Linked DNA regions of Homo sapiens: region 2 is linked to region 1. Evidence: fine-mapped expression QTL. A gene starts in region 1. The other region holds a variant in brackets. All regions are shown on one strand. Distances are between the middles of the regions.

Evidence for each region. PIP is the estimated chance that this variant, and not a neighbour inherited with it, causes the effect.
Region 2: its variant is fine-mapped to the expression of CAPN1-AS1 in platelets (CEDAR, PIP 0.95).

Annotation. Positions count from the first base shown.
Region 1 is chr11:65,176,390-65,186,088 of GRCh38, reverse strand. It overlaps CAPN1-AS1 (CAPN1 antisense RNA 1), which reads left to right and starts at 4,255. Exons shown (of 2, transcript NR_145677.1): 1 at 4,255-4,864; 2 at 5,017-6,218. CAPN1 (calpain 1) reads right to left here and starts at 4,161. Exons shown (of 22, transcript NM_005186.4): 1 at 4,076-4,161; 2 at 3,121-3,388; 3 at 2,892-2,961; 4 at 2,497-2,615; 5 at 39-172. The coding sequence starts at 3,387. RefSeq lists enhancers at 356-922, 2,106-2,895, 2,896-3,684, 3,685-4,474 and silencers at 3,497-3,791, 4,393-4,842.
Region 2 is chr11:65,140,545-65,150,243 of GRCh38, reverse strand. It overlaps the pseudogene HIGD1AP10 and the pseudogene RNU2-23P. Among named protein-coding and RNA genes, the nearest start is that of SYVN1, 11 kb to the right of the region's middle. The variant G/TG (reference allele first, on the strand shown) is at 3,969.

The DNA of each region.
Region 1 (9,699 bases):
AGCTGGAAGCTGGAGTTGCCCCCTCAGCCGCTACTCACTTGGCATAGGCCTTCTCAAGCAGGGCGCTCCAGAACTCGTTGCCTTCGGCAGAGTGCACGAACACTAGCTTCCCGTCCTTGATGGGCAGCAGGTCATCCACGACCACGTCCACCCACTCCCCAAATTGCCACAGCTGTGGGGGAGGGGCACGGTGAGTACCTGCTTTGGAATCCCCCGGACCTGAGCTCCATCCTTACCCCTACCTTCCTAGATGCAGGATTCTACATCCCAGATACATACTAGATACACATAGACTAAATCATGTAAATTAGATACATACTAGATGTATACTAGGTCAGGTATACCAGATACATAGTAGATGCATGTATACTAAATCACATATACTAGATACATACTAGATGCATGTGTACCTCTAGATACATGTATGCTACAGATATACTAGATACATGTATCTAGGTATTGAAGGAAATCAAAGTATTTCACCCTGAAATATACTTCTTCAACATATTTTGAGATAGCTGTTCAGAGGGTCTGCAAACAGAAGTAGCCCTGTAATACTGTCTTTTGTGGGGGAGATTTGCATCTGTAGAGAAAATCTGCATTGATGTAGCCAGGCTTTCTCTAAGGCCTTCCCTTGTCAGACTGAGAGCCTGACACCCTTTAAAGGTCTGAACGAAACAATTACCATCTATTCCCTCTGAGGGCTGCTACCTGTGAGGTTTCATCTACATAACAAGACTGCCTTTGCTACCCAGGCCCCCTTTTCTCCCCCTTCCATAGTCTGTCTTGCCACTATAACCTGATTTACCACCAGAAACTGGTTTTGGCCATGTTCGAGCCCCCATTCTTCCTGTAACCTCAGGATGGTATATAGGCTTCTGTACCCATTGTGGGGCTGGGGTGAACACTCTGTGGTTCCCGACCCCACGCTGCAGGCTAATCAATTTGTATGCCATTTCTCCTACTAACCTCCTTTTGTGAGTTGATTTTTCAGTGAACCTTCAGAGGGCTAAGGGGATGCTTTCCTTTGCCTGTACAATGTATACTAGATACCTGCATATTTGCTGTATACTAATACATGCATACCACATATAGACATGTGTATACTTGATATGTACATGTATGCTCGAGACATACTAGCTACATGATCCTGGAAAAGTTATCGCCTCTGAGCCTCAGTTTCCCTATCCATAAAAAGGAGCAGCGGTGCCTTCTTCACGGAAGACTTAAACAAGAGCACAGGCAAAGCCTTTAGGGAGTCACTGAACAAACAGGGTTCCTCCTCAGGCACGGAGAGGTGGAAAAGCTCTGGGGCCTGGGCTTTCCGGAACTAGCCCCCTTTTAGGCCATGGCCCCCTGGCTCTTCCCTCCCTATTCAAGGGGGTTAGGGGCACCTGTGTCATTGGATGAGCAGTGAAAATGTGGCATCCAGATCCTACAACCACAAGATGGGCAGGACTGGTTCTCACAATCACGGGCTTTGTTTCTGAGATGCCACAAAGGCCACGTTTCCCAGGGCAGGGTCGGGGCCGAAGGCGTCTGGGGTCAGAAGCGACCAAGGACTCGAGGTACCATCTGAGGGGTCGGGGCCAGGACAACGGGGGGCGGGGCGGGGTGGAGGCGGCCCTAGGAGCCCAGGTTGCGGAGAGTGTGGGTGGCGGGTACTGAACTGGCCAATCGGAGGCCAGGGAGGAGCGGATTGGAGGAGCGAGGGAAGGGGGCGAGACTGCGCCCCTGCAGACTGGAGCAGGTGGGTGTGGCGCTGGGCCAAAGTGGATCCGCACTGTGGGTTCCGCACCCTGGGTTCCGAGGGCCACCTCCACCCGCGCAAGGCGGGCAAGGACAGAGTAGGGTAAGGGGCTCTCTAACCAGGCAGAAGGAGGGAACACCCAAGAGTCCTTCGGGCAGGGCTGGGGCCTCCAAGGCTGGAGAGTCTCATCCAGGGTTGCTGGGCATGTCCCTCCCAAAGGCAGCTCATTGAGAATTGATTGGTGTGACTTGAAAAATGGGCCCTGGGCACACCGTCAGGAAAAGCTGGTTTACGTAGACTTAATCCCGAGTCTTTCTTTTCTGCTGGGCTCAGTCAGACCTTGCCAAAGCGCAGGAGGAGTTGGGGGATAGGAGGCTTGACACGTGGAGAAGGCCACACGTGCTGATCTGTTTTCCCCAGCGAACACTCCTTTCTCAGATGGGGCAACTGAGACCGACCTCCGGGAGGAGTGGAATTTGTCCCACAGGATATAACACAAAAGTCTTTCTGTTCTTTCAAGCACTTTCCACCTGATACATACAACCACCTAGGAAAACTGCCAGCCGAAATACCTGCCCAGCCCAGTCACTTCACACATGACAGACCCGAGATGGCACTGAGAGGTCAAATACCTGCTAGAGGGAGGGCTGGCCCCACAGGGTGTGGCCCTAACTGCAGGTATTGTGGGTCATCCTTCCGCATCTCCCCCAGTGCCTGCTGCCCCTCCTCCCCAGGGGAGCCCTCACCTGGAAATGGAAGATGCCGGCATAGCCATTCTGGAAGCTCTGGCCGTGCGGAACCACTCGGTGCAGGAGGGTGTCGTTGAGAGTGAGGGAGGCGATGGCCGCCAAGAGCCAGCAGTCCCCTGGGGCAGGAGGGATGCACATTAGCCTGCTCTACCAACCTGCCCCGGGGGGGGAAGCGGGTGCTAGGGAGAATCTGGGGTTCCTTGGCCAGGGTGCCACTTAACTCCCCTCAGCTTGCAGAAAAGACCCAGGAATCTGGGCAAACCAGCCCCAGCGCTGATAGCCAGATCCTGCCTGGGCTTGCAAGAGGGAGGGGTTGGGGCAGAGCCTGAAGGAGCGGGAATGGGGAACTACTGTGGAAAAAATACCCGGGACCCGACGCCCTGGGGGCCTACCCAGTGCTCCCTGGCAGATGTCTGTGCGGGTAGCTCCATCCACAATGAACTGGGGGTTTGACAGCAGTTCCTACGAGAGACCCAGAGTCCTGTTCCTCGGCCAGCCCCTCCCAGAAATTGGCACCAGGCCACCCCAGACCCCATTCCCCACCAGGGACATGGAGTCCCATCCCTACTCCTCATCCAGGATCTGGCTTAGCCGAGTCCCACCCAGGATGGCCCCTCTCACCGTGGGACGCTTCCACTTGATGCCATAGGTCTTGGAGGAATTGGGACCCAGGTCCTTGTAACCCAGGCTCTGGGGTACCGGGGGGAAGGCCTCATCACGGAAGAGGGTCCCACTCTGCAGGCATCGCACCCGCAGCTGCTCATAATCCTGGCCCAGGTACTTGATGGCATTCTCATGGCGGCCCAGGCCCAGCTCCCTGGCCCGCTGCTTCTGCACTTGGGCTGACACCCCAGTGCAGTACACCGGCGTGATGATCTCCTCCGACATCCTGCCGGACAGATGGGCCTGCTCAGAACCCAGGCCTTCCCAAGACTAGAACCTGGGCTCCTGCCTGCAAGCTCTGCTCTCCTGCCCCTGCTTATCCATCCCCAAACCTAGGGTTTCCCTGCCTCACTGCTCCCCTCACAGAAGTAGGGTTCTCAGCCACCTCCCGGTGCTCCCAGTGAATCCAGGAAAGGGATTTCCCAGTTCCCAGGCGTGCCGGCCACCTCTCCTTTCCCGGATCCCATTGTCAGGGGCTTGCAGCTCTGTAGTGAGCCAGCAGGTCAGGTGGGGCAGGGCGGAGCCTCCAGACAGCACAAGGAACTGGGCAGGTGGGACACAGCAGGGAAGGCCTCTTTGATCCTGTTCACAGGCCTGCAACCCCCTCCCCAAACTAACCAAGCTCCTGGTGCACCGGCCCCTTGCCGTGGGCTGAAAACCCCAGACGGTCGGGGTCCCCCTCCTCAGGCCCCCGCAGCAGGCTCGATATCAGAGCTGGTGGGCCCTAGCCCAGCCCCTGGGGACAGCGGTGAGCCAGGCTGGGACAGGCGCCTGGGCTGTGCCGCTCCGCCAGCCCCCACCCCTGCTCCAGGAACGCAGAGGCCCCCGAGAAGGGACCGTGCTGGGGCAGCCCCTCAGCCCAGGAGCAGTGGCCAGGGTCAAGGAATCCCGGCTCGGCTACCCAGCTTCTTACCTGGGGGAGGGGTGTTTGGGGGTCGCTGCAGTCCCTGAGGCTGGCTTCCCGGTGGCAGCTCAGGGCAGGGCCCAACCAGGAAGAGCGCTCCTCCCCGCCCTCCTCCCGCCGCCCCTCCGCCCTCCGCCCTCCCTCTCTCCTTCTCCTCCTCCTCCTCCTGGGGCTCCTACCCCGCTTCCTCTCGGCTCTCCCTTATCTCTCCGGCACGGTCTCTGACTATCTCTTACTCACGGTGTCTCCCCGCCCCTCCCTCCGCAGGCCGGGGGCCAATTCCGCGAGAGGACAAATTAGTAAAAGGCAGAGCAGTCCCCGGGGAGGGGCCAGCGCGGGGGGGGATGGGGGGGCTGGGGCGCGGCGGAAGGGCACCGCGGGGAACGGAGGGGGAGGGCCGGGCAGGGGGTATTTTTAACCAGGGGCAGCAGCTCGAGTTGCAGGGCCGGACGGCCGCACCCCACGCGCGCCCTGGCGGGCATTCCGGGGCGATTGTGCGGCGGCGCCGCCTCCCGCAGCCCCGGGCCCGCCCGGTCCCCAGCTCCCCTCGCTCCGCGCGACCGCAGCTGCTCCCGCCGTTCCCAGCCAGCCCCGGCGCGGGGCCGAGATTACCTCGGGCTGCGGCAGCTGCTCTGAGGAGGGGCCGGGCTGGCAGCGAGCAGACCCCTGCCGGACACTCAGCAAACGGCAGCCTCACCCCGCAGGGCCGCGCCACTCCCCTTCCCCACCCCACCGCCGCGTCCCGGCTCAGCGCTCCCCGGGGAACGCAGGGGGACCGGGCTCGCTGCGTGACCTTGGGTAAGTCCCTGCCCCGTTCGGCCCGACTTTCCGCATGCGTGCATCCTATGGGATGGGGTTGGGCAATTGTGGGAGCCCATCTTTCTCTAACGTTCTGGGGTTTCTTGAACCTGGAAACTTAGAGAGGTGGACATCCCTGTTCTCTCCCCCAGGCTCTCAGCCCACCCACCTGGAAGCGCCCATGTGTCACCTTACCCAGGAGAGGGCGGCAGAGGCTGCGAGCAGGACGGCAGCCCCCTCTCCCCACCCCCAGGACCCTGAGATCCTGCTTCACGGGCTGCAAGAAGTTGGGGGGCCAGGATTCGGCGCGGAGGCCGGGGGTGTGGGTGGGGAGACTGCAGAGACTCCCGAGACCCCCCCAAGTCAGGGCTTTTCGCTGGTCTCGCAGCCCCAGCCCAGCAGCTGCTGCAGTCTTGCATGTTGTGGATGCAAGCATTTTGCTGAGGAAACTGCATAGCGTTCCCAGGACTCTAGGGCCCACGACCCCTCAAAAGTTAAGAGCCGCTGATCTAATCTAACCCCACTTTCACCCTCAGTTAACAAAAGAGGAAAACTGAGGCCTGAGAGGGTGTGACTTGCCTGAAATACCTAACCTGGTGAGTGATGGGTGGAACCAGCTCCTAGGCTTTCTGCGCAGGTGTCCAGGGACAGAGAAGGGTGGTTTAAACTAGAGAGGTGGCAGGCAGAAGTAGATGGATTTGATAACTATTTAGGATACACCATCAAAATTTAACTCAAACTGGATTACACACCTAAATATAAATGGCCAAACCATAAAACTTTTTTTTTTAAAAATGGAGACAATCTTAACAATATTGGGTTTGAAAAGATTTCTTTTTTCTTTTCTAAAGGCAGGGTCTTGCTTTCATTGACCAGGCAGGAGTGCAGTGCCCTGATCACAGCTCACTGTAACTTTAAACTCCTGGGCTCAAGAGATCCTCTCACCTCAGCCTCCTGAGTAGCTGAGACTACAGGCACGTGCCACGACACACAGCTAATTTTTAAATTTTTTGTAGAAATGGGGTCCTGCTGTGTTACTCAGGCTGGTCATGAACTCCTGGGCTCAAGCAGTCCTCCTGCCTGAGCCTCCCAAAGTGCTGGGATTACAGGTGTGAGCTTTGGCACCTGGCCAGATTTCTTAAATATGACACAAAAAGTGTAAATGATAGAAGAAATCAATAAATTGAACTTCATCAAAATAAAACGCTTTTGTTTCTCAAAATGCACGAAACTATTAAAAATGAAAAGATAAGCCATAGACTAGGACGAATATTTGTAAAAATTCTATCTGATGTAGGACTTGTATAAAGAACTTTTACAATTGAATAAAAATCCAATAAAAATGGACAAAACATTTGTTTGTTTTCTGGTGTTTGTTTTTGTTTTTGAGATGGAGTCCCGCTCCATCACCCAGGTTGGAATGCAGTGGCGCGATCCTGGCTCACTGCAACCTCCACCTCCTGGGTTCAAGCAATTCTCCTGCCTCAGCCTCCCCAGTAGCTGGGATTACAGGCGCCCGCCACCACACCAGGCTAATTTTTGTATTTTTAGTAGAGACAGGGTTTCACCATGTTAGCCAAGCTGGTCTCAAACTCCTGACCTCAAGTGATCTGCACGCCTCTGCCTCCCAAGGTGCTGGGATTACAGGGTGAGCCACCGCGCCTGTCAAAAAATGGACAAAACATTTGAACAGACACTTCATCCAAAAAGATCTCTGGATGGCAAATAGGCACATTAAAAAACACTGAGTGCATTACTCTTAGGGAAATGCAAATTAAAGCCACTAGAAGGACTGCTTCTAAAAGAACACCTACTAGAATGGCTAAAAGTTAAGATCAACCATACCAAGTGTTGTTATGTTGTCAAGGATATAGAAGAACTGGAGCTGTCATACACCAAGAGAGGGTAAAATGATCACCACCACTTTGGAAGACAGTTTGGCAATTTCTTTAAAATTTAGCGATACAAAGAAATCAGCCATCAAGCTACAAAAAGACATAGCATAACCTTAAACGCATATTGCTAAGTAAAAGAGGCTGGTATTAAAAAGCTGCATACTGTATGATTCCAATAACTCTATATGACGTTCTAGAAAAGGCAAAACTAGCAATGGTAAAAAGATCAGCAGTTGCCAGGGATTCAGAGGGGTAGGAGAGGGATGGAGCACAGGGCATTTTTAGCACAGCGAAACTATTCTGTATGATACTGTAATGACGGATGCATGACATGCATTTATCCAAACCTGCAGAATGTACAACACTAAGAGTGAACCTTAATGTAAACTATGGACTTGAATTAATAATATTGTGTCAATATTGGTTCATCAGTGATTACAAATATACCACAGGCTGAGCGCAGTGGCTCACCCCTGTAATCCCAGCACTTTAGGAGGCTGAGGTGGGCGGATCACATAAGGTCAGGAGTTCGAGAGACGAGCCTGGCCAATATGGCGAAACCCTGTCTCTACTAAAAAATACAAAAATTAGCTGGACGTGGTGGTGGGCTCCTGTAGTCCCCACTACTAGGGAGGCTGAGGTAGGAGAATCACTTGAACCCAGGAGATGGAGGTTGCAGTGAGCCAAGATCACACCATTGCACTCCAGCCTGGGCGACAAGAGCAAAACTCCGTCTCAAAAAAAAAAAAAAAATAGAACTTAGTCACTGGTTAGATATGGCTCTTGGACACCAGGAGAGACCAAAGACAACTTCAGACCCTGGATCTGGCTTGAGCACCTGAGTAGATTAAAGAGAAGGGGGAATGCACTAAGCTGGAGGGACAGTATGGGATCAGGGTATGGGGTATCTTTGGGATCCCCCTATCCAAGAGGAGATTCCTAGGGGTGAGGAACAGACCTTGTGCTCAAAATAGAGGTACAAATTTGGGAGTCACTAGCCACCAAAAAGCAGAGGCAAGGGGGCTGACACCTTGGTCTTCATATGAAGATGCTTCATATAGATGTCAATTCTCCTTAAATTAATCTCTAAGTGTATCACAATGAAAAATTTTAAGAGTCTTCTGGTGGGAGATAAGGAGGGACTAGAAAAGCTGATTTAAAGGTCATATGGCAAATTAAACAAGTAGGAAACTTCTGAAAATAAAAGACATAATGAGTATAGACTAATCCTACCAGATATTAAAACACAACAAATCTATCATTAAAAGGTAATAATTAAAGAGGGTTACTGACACATAGAGATCAATAGAAGACAGAGAAATTTAGAAACAGATTCAAATACAGGCAGGAATGTAGTAGATGATAAAAGTACCATTTCTAATCTGTTGAGAAAAGATGAGTTAATAAAAGACATTAGGAAGAAAAGGGAGCAATCTGGAAAAAAAGTAAGTTGGATTCATAATTTGTATCTTAGAAAAAATTACAGATGAACTCAATTTATAGGTTTGGAATATGTTGTTCCTAATGAAAAAAACATTTAAAAAGGCTGGGTGTGGTGGCTAACACCTGTAATCCTAGCACTTTGGGAGGCCAAGGTAGATGGATCACCTGAGGTCAGGAGTTCACGACCAGCCCGGCCAATATGGTGAAACCTCGTCTCTACTAAAAATACAAAAAAAAAAAAAAAAAAAGCTGGGCATGGTGGGTGGCAGGCGTTTGTAATCCCAGCTACTCGGGAGGCTGAGGCAGGAGAATTGTTTGAACCCAGGGGGCGGAGGTTGCAGTGAGCCGAGATTGCACCACTTCACTCCAGCCTGAGCAAAAGAGTGAGACTCCGTCTCAAAAAAATAAATAAAAATTTTTTTAAAAATTAAAAAATAAAAACTCTAGGTCTGGTGTGGTATCTCACACCACCTGTAATCCCAGCATTTTCGGAGCCTGAGGTGGGAGGCTCTCTTGAGCCTAGGGGTTCAAGGCCTCAGTGAGCACCGCTGCACTCTAGCCTGGGCAACAAAGCAAGACTCCATCTCTAAAAAATCAATAAAAAATAGGCCAGGCGCGGTGGTTCATGCCTGTAATCCCAGCACTTTGGGAGGCTGAGGCAGGTGGATCACGAGGTCAGGAGATCAAGACCATCCTGGCTAACACGGTGAAACCCCATCTCTACTAAAAATACAAAACGAATTAGCCGGGCGTGGTGGCGGGCGCCTGTAGTCCCAGCCACTTGGGAGGCTGAGGCAGGAGAATGGCGTGAACCCAGGAGGCAGAGCTTGCAGTGAGCCAAGATTGCGCCACTGCACTCCAGCCTCGGCGACAGAGTGAGACAACGTCTCAAAAAAAATAAATAAATAAAAATAAAAATTAAATGTTAACCTTCAATATTTAAACGTACAAAAATGAAAACGAAAATACAGCCAGAAGCTGGCTGGGCACGGTGGCTCATGCCTGTAATCCTAGCACTTTGGGAGGCTGAGGTGGGTGGATCACTTGAGGTCAGGTGTTCAAGACCAGCCTGGCCAACATCGTGAAACCCTATCTCTACTAAATATACAAAAATCAGCTGGGCATGGTGGCACACACCAGCAATCCCAGCTACTTGGGAGACTGAGGCACAAGAATTGCTTGAACCCGGGAGATGGAGGCGGAGGTTGCGGTGAGTGGAGATCGCACCATTGCACTCCAGCCTGGGCAACAAGAGCAAAACTCCATCTCAAAAAAAAAAAAAAAAAAATACAGCCAGGAGCTAAAGGAGAAACTTTTTGTATCATCTCAGTGTGGAAACAGTCTTTTTAACTATGACACAAAACCCAAAAGTCATAAAATTGCATTTTTTACTACATTAAAAATCCATACAGTTATGTCAAAATGATGGACTGAAGAAAACATTTACAATTAACATCTTAAAGGAGTATTTTTCTCCATATACATATATAAAAAATC
Region 2 (9,699 bases), 36 kb after region 1:
GACTTTGTCTTTCCCTATTAGTTGGGCAAACCTCAGGCAAGTTACTTAATCTCTCTGAGCCTCAGTTTCTTCATCTATGAAACCGATATGATAATAGTACCTGACTCAGGATTGACATAAAGGTTAAAACTGTAACTGCCCAACATTTATTATTCTCAGCCCTGCCCTGAAGGATGTCACAGACACAGAAGTGATTACAATGCAGGGTCATAGGGGCTGTGTTCACACAGGGACAAATGCTGTAGGCACCATGTGGTGGGGAGAGACTCACTCAGGTTCATGGCTGATGCTGGAAATGTGTAAGGGTGTGCACTAAGAATTTTCCAGACAAAGAAGAAAGGGAAAAGCATGCTACTTTATATAGGTTTGAGCAAAAGTGAAGATAGCTAGGCTGAAGAGGCAAGCAGAGTTTGGGGAATGAGACAAGTTAAGTTTGACCACAATACAAAGTGCATGATGAGGGCCGGGTAAGGTGGCTCATGCCTGTAGTCCCAGACTTTGGGAGGCTGAGGTGGGTGGATCACCTGAGGTCAGGAGTTCGAGACCAGCCTGGCCAACATATGAAATCCCATCTCTACTAAAAATACAAAAATTAACTGGGCATGGTGGCAGGTGCCTGTAATCCCAGCTACTCAGGAGGCTGAGGCAGGAGAATTGCTTAAACCCAGGAGGCGGAAGTTGTTGTAAGTCGAGATCACACCACTGCACTCTAGCGTGGTCGACAAGAGTGAGACTCCGTCTCAAAAATAAATAAATAACAAAGTGCATGATGAGGATTTGGTGGGGTTAGGAGGCAGGCTGGAAGCATATCATGCAGAAATCCAAATGCCCCCTTAGAAAGGCCTTTGTCAGATTAGCAAGCTCACACTTGTCACTGAGCATCTGTCTCAGCCTTCTCCCAGCTGGCTGCCTGGACCACAGAGGCTGGAACGGTAAAAAAAAAAAAAAAAAAAAAAAAAAAAAAAAAAAAAAAACCACACAAAACTTGAGTTACATATATTCCTTCTGGTTTTTTTTTTTTTTTTAAAAGACTGAGTTTCACTCTTGCTCCCCAGGCTGGGGTGCAGTGGTGTGATCTCGGCTCACTGCAATCTCTGTCTCCTGGGTTCAAGTGATTCTCCTGCCTCAGCCCCCCAAGTAGCTGGGATTACAGGCATGTGCCACCATGCCTGGCTAGTTTTTTATTTTTAGTAAAGATGGGGTTTCTTCATGTTGGTCAGGCTGGTCTTGAACTCCCGACTTCAGGTGATCCGCCCCCTTGGCCTCCCAAAGTGCAGGGATTATAGGTGAGAGCAACCGCACCCAGCCTCCTTCCACAGTTTCAATCATGTGAGACTTACATTTGGAACTAAGTGGAGTCGAGGGAGACAGGTAGCAGCCCTCGGGCACTCCTTCTGCTGGTGTGGTTCCAGCAGGGATAGTAAGGCTGGGCCCACTGCACTGTGGAGCTTTCCAGATTCTGGGCTTGCAGTTAGTGTCTCACCTGAGCAGCTGAGTATGCACTGCCTGTGACAATGCCACTCCAAGTAGATCTGCCAGGGACCCTTCCCAGGAAATTATTTATAACAATTCCAGCAGAGATGGCTTCTCATCCTCCTTGAAGCTACTGGACTCTGAGCCCCTGATTCTGCCACAGCTCATCACTCTAGACCTGTCAGGCTTAACACAATTCACTTATCCAACCATTCAATCATCCATCATCCACTTAGCCAATCCAGTCTTTTTTTTTTTTTTTTTTTTTTTTTTTTTTTTTTTTTTTTTTTTTTTTTGAGACAGAGTCTAACTCTGTCAGCCAGGCTGGAGTGCAGTGGCGCTATCTTGGCTCACTGCAACCTCGACTTCCTGGGTTCAAGTGATTCTTCTGCCTCAGCCTCCTGAGTAGCTGGGATTACAGGCACGCATCACCATACCTGGCTAATTTTTATATTTCTAGTAGATATGGGGTTTCATCCTGTTGGCCAGGCTGGTCTTGAACTCCTGACCTCACTCAGATGATCCACCTGCCTCGGCCTCCCAAAGTGCTGGGATTACAGGCGTGAGCCACCACGCTCAGCCCAATCATTTGTTGACTCACTTCTTCAACACTCCCTGAGTTCTTATTCTGTGGCAGGCCCTGGGTCTGGGGCCAAGAACAGGGAGTCAAATTAGATTAGGGCTGTGAAACAAGCCACTCTCAAACCTAGAGGCTTATGACAATACCAATCATTTATTTTCTTACCATTATGCAATTTGGGCAAGGCCTGGTTGAGACAGCTCTTCTTGTGCCTCCAGCTCCATCCTTGGAGCTGGAGGACCCTTCAAAGATGGTGCACTCCAATGGCTGGCAAGTTGATGCTGGCTAGAGCTATTTATTTATTTATTTATTTATTTATTTATTTATTTATTTAAATTCCCCCAGCCAATTGGATGGTAGGGCTAGAGCTTTTTATTCCCTATTTTTTTCATTTTTAAACTTTATCTCCCTTTAGGGGTACACTGTTCCTGGAGGTACTGCAATGCTAGGTAAATGTGTGGAGTGGGTGGGGCAAGCTCCTATTCCATCTCTTAGTTCCAAAAATCTATTTAATATAGATTGTGTCCTCGAATAGAGGACATATCAGATATTAAACTGATAAGAACAGATACTACACTTGATCTTACCCAAAAGGCTGAGAATGGAGCTTTGATTCTCCTCTACATGGGCCTCCCCACAGGACTGCTTGGGCTTCCTCACAGCATGGTGGCTGAATTCCAAGAGAAGAAAACAGAAGCTGCCAGTTCTGTTTTAAAGGGTAAGCCCAGAATTGGGCACAGCTTCATTTCCACCATATTCTACTGGTTCAAAGCAAGTCATAGGCCAAGTCCAGAATTAAGGGGGTGGAGAAGTAAACCCCACCTTTCCATGAGGGACGGGATAAGGAATTTATGAGCATTTATAATCCACAAACCTAACTAGGAGTGCAGTTTCATGCTGCTTGGATTGAGGAATTGACTGGTTGGATAACTGACTGGGTTTGATTAACACAAACTAAGGATTATTTCTCATTATATCTGTTTCCACATGGTGGACCTTTTCTGGAGTAACTAACACTGCAGAAAAGTGGCCTTGTCCCACTTTCTCTCACTCACCCCTCCCAAGAAGTAGAAAAGAGAGTTTTCTTGGTGAAGTTGTTAGAAGCAACTATGTATGGGACCCAAAGTGAGGTAGGAGGCAGGTCTCAATTCTGGAGGTGGGGCTGGGACACCAGACCAAATTGAGGACTTGCTAAAACAGGGATGGGGTGGAGGCAGCTTTCCATAAGACACACCCACCAGTGTGCCATGTCAGTTTACCATTGCCATGGTAACACCTGGAAGTTACTGCCTCTTTCTGTGTTAATGACCAAACGACTCAGAAGTTACCACCTTATTTTTAGAAATTTCTGCATAATCTTCTCCTTAATTTGCATATAATTAAAAGTGGGTATAAATATGACTGCAGAACTACCTCTGAGCTGCTACTCGGGGTAGCCCTGGTGTGCAAGGAACAGTACATCTGCTGCTGCTGTGCACTGCCACTTCACTAAAAGTGTCTGTCTAACAGCACTGGCTCACCCTGGAATTATTTCCTGGACAAAGCCAAGAACCCTCCCGGGCTAAGCCCCAATTTGGGGGCTTGCCTACCCTACATCAAAAGAAGGAGAAACCTTTGGGAGCAGAGTGGGTAAGTCTGTGCAGCTCTGGGACGGGTACAGGGACTTCAAATGCATTTTCTCAACAACTCTATTGGTTACAGAAGTAACATTTTTATCTCTATCCTATGTGTCTGTTTTTCAGATGGTACTAAACTTGGTCAGGGAAAGACAGGGTGTTACATTGTATGCCCTGTAAAAACCCTTGCTCTAAATCTGTCACATACTTGGCACTCAAGAAAAACATGTTAAATGTTAACTAAAAGAATGTTGACATCAGGTGTGAGAGGTTTTCTTCTTCTTCCTTTTTTTTTTTTT[G/TG]AGATGGAGTCTCGCTCTGTCGCCCAGGCTGGAGTGCAATGGTGCAATCTCGGCTCACTGCAACCTCCACATCCTGGGTTCAAGCTATTCTCCTGCTTCAGCCTGCCAAGTAGCTGGGACTACAGGCCGGCACCACCATGCCCAGCTAATTTTTGTATTTTTAGTGGAGACGGGGTTTCACCATGTTGGCCAGGGTGGTCTCGATCTCCTGACCTCGTGATCCGCCCGCTTCAGCCTCCCAAAGTGCTGGGATTACAGGAATGAGCCACCGCGCCCAGCCGGGAGATTCTTCAAGCAGTCATTATATCAACAGACACAGATGTTTCCCTTTCTTCATATGACGAAGCTCAGGGATCCAAACTTATTCGTAAAGCTAAAGAGACACCATTGGTACCCGTTGGAATAGCAGGTTTTGCAGCACTTGTTACATATGGATTATACAAATTGAAGAGCAGGGGAAATACGCAAATGTCCCTTCATCTGATCCACATGCGTGTGGCAGCCCAAGGCTTTGTTGTAGGAGCAATGACTATTGGTATGGGCTATTCCATGTATCGAGAATTCTGGGCAAAACCTAAGCCCTAGAAGAAGAGATGCTGTCTTGGTCTTGTTGGAGGAGCTTGCTTTAGTTAGACATCTCATTATTGAAGTTATGTGTTATTGTGGAAAATAAACTATTTGAGTGGGTTTAGATGGTAACACAGCATTTTGAATATTGGCTTCCTTTCTTGCAGGCTTGATTTGCCTGGTGACTTAATTACTAGTGACTAGTTTACTAACTAGGTCATTCAAGGAAATCAAGTTAGCATAAAAGAAACATGTCACCTAAATGCACTAGATGGTGTTGAAATGTCCACCTTCTTCAATTGTGAAGATGAACTTAAGTTCTAAAGGATATAACAAGCCAACCCTGAAGTACTCCCAGTTTGCTGCAGGATCTCACATGTTTCGGATGTTATATAAGAGTCCTATTTGCCCTAGTTAATTTAACTTTTTTTCTGCCTGTCTTGTGGACTGGCTGGCTCTTTCAGAACTCTGTCTAAAAAGTGCATGGAATAAAACTTGTAAAGCTTCCCACAACTGACAGTATCTATGTGTGTGTGTTTAAACCAAATCTAGAAAGCTTACATTATAGCTGCATAGTAGTGGTATTTATTAAAGAATCACAGTTGTGAACATGAGAATAACTTATGGATTCTAGTTTAGTTATTTTGTAATTGCAGAATTATATTTTTGCTGCTGTTATATCTGAATAATTTTTAAATGTCATCTTGAGATAGAAATATGTATTTAAGCACTCATGCAAAGGTAAATGAGCACCTTTTATTTTATTTTTTTTGAGACGGAGTCACGCTCTGTCACCAGGCTGGAGTGCAGTGGTGTGATCTCAGCTCACTGCAACCTCCATCTCCCGGGTTCAAGCACTTCTCCTGTCTCAGCCTCCTGAGTAGCTGGGACTACAGGTGCACACCACCATCCTTGGCTAATTTTTATATTTTTAATAAAGACAGGGTTTCGCCATGTTGTCCAGGATGGTCTCGATCTTGACCTCGTGATCCGCTGGGCCTCAGCCACTCAAAGTGCTGGGATTACGGGCATGAGCTACCGTGCCCAGCCCAATGAGCACTTTTTAAATGTGTGCATTGCTTATTTTTTCCATAAGAATTACAAACATTAAACTAATCAAATTACCTATAATGGAATTGATTAATGACTTATGAGCAAGCTGGTTTGGCCAGACAGTATACCCAAACTTTTATAAACTATAGAATGTTATTACATTTGTGAAATTTTCTTGTCTAACCTGAATTTACATTTCATGGTGATAACATGGTATATGTACTGTTGTTAAAGTAAGTGACCATCTCAAAAAAAAAAAAAAAAAAGAACGTCAACATCAATTCTGACAGGACAGGAATTTGGACAATGTAGCTTTTACTCATTCATTCTTCCACTAATGCATTCATTCAGCAGACAGTCAAATAACCTGCAATTAGCTTGTGGATCTCTCTACCATGAGACTGAAAGCTCCATGAGGTCAGGGAATGTATTTTGTTCTCCACAATGTCCTCAGAACCTGGCCTGGGGCCTGAACACAGTAGGCCCTCAGTAAATGTTTGTTAATTAAAGGAATGAGATCAGAGGCAAGGGAAGTCCAAAGGCAGTCTAGATAGACCAACAAACTGACCTCATGTGTGGTCAGTCCCACATTCAATGCACACTTCTTGGTGAGGGGGTCATTCAGGGAAAGTTGGAGGGTCTGGCCTTCCAGGCTGGGAGTACCTGGAGTGTTCCACCATGGAAGAGAGAGAATAGTTCCTCATTTTCTCTTTCATGGAGGGAGAATGTGAGAATCCAGATGTTGTTGTCAAAAATGTTGAAAAACTTTTAAGCCGAACGCAGCAGCTCATGACTGTAATCTCAACACTTTGCAAGGCCAAGGCAGGTGGATCGCGTGAGCCAAGGAGTTTGAGACCAGCCAGGGTAACATGGCAAAACCCCATATCTACAAAAAATACAAAAATTAGCCAGGCACAGTGGCGCATGCCTGTAGTCCCAGCTACTCTGCAGGGCTGAGGTGGGAAGATCACTTGAACCCAGGAGTTTGAGGCTGCAGCGAGCCCTGATCATGCCACTGCATTCCAGCAGCTTGGGTGATAGAGCAAGACACTGTCTCAAAAAAAAAAAAAAAAAAAAGCCTGGGCATGGTGGCTCACACCTGTAATCCCAGCACTTTGGGAGGCCGAGGCGGGTGGATCACGAGGTCAAGAGATGGAGACCATCCTGGCCAACATGGTGACCATCCTGGCCAACATGGTGAAACCCTGTCTCTACTAAAAATACAAAAAATTAGCTGTGTGTGGTGGCAGGCGCCTGTAGTCCCAGCTACTTGGGAGGCTGAGGCAGGAGAATCGCTTGAACCCAGGAGGTGGAGGTTACAGTGAGCCGAGGTCACGCCACTGTACTCCAGCCTGGGCGGCAGAGCAAGACTCCATCTCAAAAATAAAATAAAATTTTAAAATACTTATCAATTCATGTTTTCTGTTGTGTCTTAGGTCAGTTTTAGTGCATCTTTTATTTTCTAGGAAATTGTCTATTTCTCCTAAATTTTCAAATTTATTGCCATAAAATTGCACCTACTGCATGCTCATTATTTTTAAATTTCTGCTGTGTCTGTTTATTGCTGTTTTCATTCATTATATTGTCTGCTTGTGCAAACCTTATTTTCTTGACCAGTCTCTCTGGAGATTTGTCATTCTTATTAGTTTATTCAAAGAGCCAGCTTTCAACTTTGTGTATTCTATTTTAGCTTTATCTATTTTCTTTTTTCTTTTCTTTTTTTTTTTTTTAGACAGAGTCTCGCATTGTTGCCCAGGCTGGAGTACAATGGCGCGATCTCAGGTCACTGCAACCTCTGCCTCCCAGATTCAAGTGATTCTCCTGCCTCAGCCTTCCAAGTAGATGGGATTACAGGTGCCCCCCCACCACGCCCAGCTAATTTTTTGTATTTTTAGTAGAGACAGGGTTTCACCATGTTGGCCAGGCTCTTCTCAAACTCCTGATCTCATGATTCGCCTGCCTCAGGCTCCTAAAGTGCTGGGATTACAGGCGTGAGCCATTGCGCCTGTCCTCTATTTTCTTAATTTCTATTTTGTCTTTGTTACTTCCTTACCTATTTTATTGATGTAATTAACATACCACAATTCATTATTTTAAAGTGTACAATTCAGCCAGGTGTGGTGGCTCACATTTGAATCCCAGCATTTTGGGAGGTTGAGGCGGAAGGATCACTTGAGGTCAGGAGTTCAAAACCAGCCTGGGCAACAGAGTGAGACTCTGTCTCTACTAAAAATAAAAAAGTTAGCCAGGCATGATGGCATTTGCCTGTAATGTCAGCCACTTGGGAGGCTGAGGTGGCAGGATCACTTGACCCCAGGAGTTCCAGGCTGCAGTGAGCCATGATCGCGCCACTGCACTACAGCTTTCGCAACAGAGCGAGACTGTGTCTCAAAATAAATAAAGTGTACAATTCGGTCATTTTTAGTATACTCACAAAATTGTGCAAGCATAGCCACTATCTCCTCAGGAACATTTTTATCACTCCTCAAATAATAAACCCCATACCAATTAGCAGTCAGGCCCCATTCCTCACGCCACCAGCCCTTGGCAACCACTAACTACTTCTGTCTGTATGGACTTGTCTATTCTGGACATGTAACGTAAGTGCAGTGATATGAATGCTTTTTTCACTGAGCACAGGGTTTTCAAGGTTCATCAATGTTGTAGCATGAAGCAGTACTTCCTTCCTGTTTATGGCTAAATAATACTCCATTGTGTGGGTACATTACATTTTGTTTAGCCATTCATGGACATTTGGGTTGTTTGTACTTTTTGGCTATTATGAATAATGCTGCTACGAATGTTCTTGTACAAGTGTTTGTATGACCAGATGCTTTCAGTTCTCTTGAACATATACCTAGAAGTAGAATTTCTGGGTCATATGGTAATTTTATGTTTAATTTACTGAAGAACTGCCAAACTGTTTTCCAAAGCATTTACACTATTTTACATTCCCACCAGAAACACATAAGGGTGCCAATTTCTCCACATCTTGCCAACACTTGTTATTGTTGGTCTTTTTTTTATCACAATGATTTTAGTGGGTATGAAATCATCTCTCTATGGTTTTGATTTACATCTCCATAATGACCAGTGATGTTTAACATATTTTTTTGTGCTTATTAACCATTTTCTTTTCTTTTTCTTTCTTTTAGAGATAGGGTCTCTCTCTGTCACTCTGGCTGGAGTGCAGTGGCATGATCTTAGGATCATAGCTCACTGCAGCCTTGAACTCCTGGGCTTGAGCAATCCTCCCACCACAGCCTCTTGAGTAGCTGAGACTACAGCCACCACACCTGGATAATTTATTTTTTGTAGGAGGGGGGTCTCACTATGTTGCCAAGGCTGAGAGGATTGCTTGAGCTCAGGAGTTGGAGACCAGCCTGCGCAACATGGCAAGACTCTGACTCTACAAAAAATACAGTAAACAAACGAACAAATAAAAATTTAAAAGACAGACCTAACCATTCTCTCCCTAATGGATATGTGGTTCTATTGTCTTGTTTCACTATTTCAAACAATGCTGTGGCAATCATCCTTGGACTTAAAATCTTTGGGGTCATGTACAAGCTCTTCAACAAGATAGATTCCTGAAAGGGGAAAATCCAGGTCAAAATGTAAGTTTGCTTTCAACAACTTTTATGTCAACTTAACTGAGATATAATTGTATGTTAATACAATAAGATTTGCCAGTTTTAACATACAATAAGATTAGTCACTTACACAATTTGGTGTGCTTTAACAAACATGTATAAGTCAGGTAATTACCACCACTACCATGATATAGAGAATGTTTCCACTATCCAAAAAGTTTGCTTGTGCCATAGAGCAATCTGTCCTCTCCCCTAGCCTCTGTCCCTGGCAACTACTTGAGATGCTCTCTGTCACTAGTTCTATGAACATATATTTGCATTTATCTTGGGTAACTTAAGAACGGAATTGCTGGGTCATATGGTAAATGTATACTTAACTTTATAAGAAATTACCGAACCTTTTTTCAATATGGCTATACCGTTTTGTATTCCCACCTGCAATCTAAGATAATTCTAGGTGTTCCACATCATTACCACCACTTTGTATGACATCTTTTTAATTTAACTATTCTAGTACT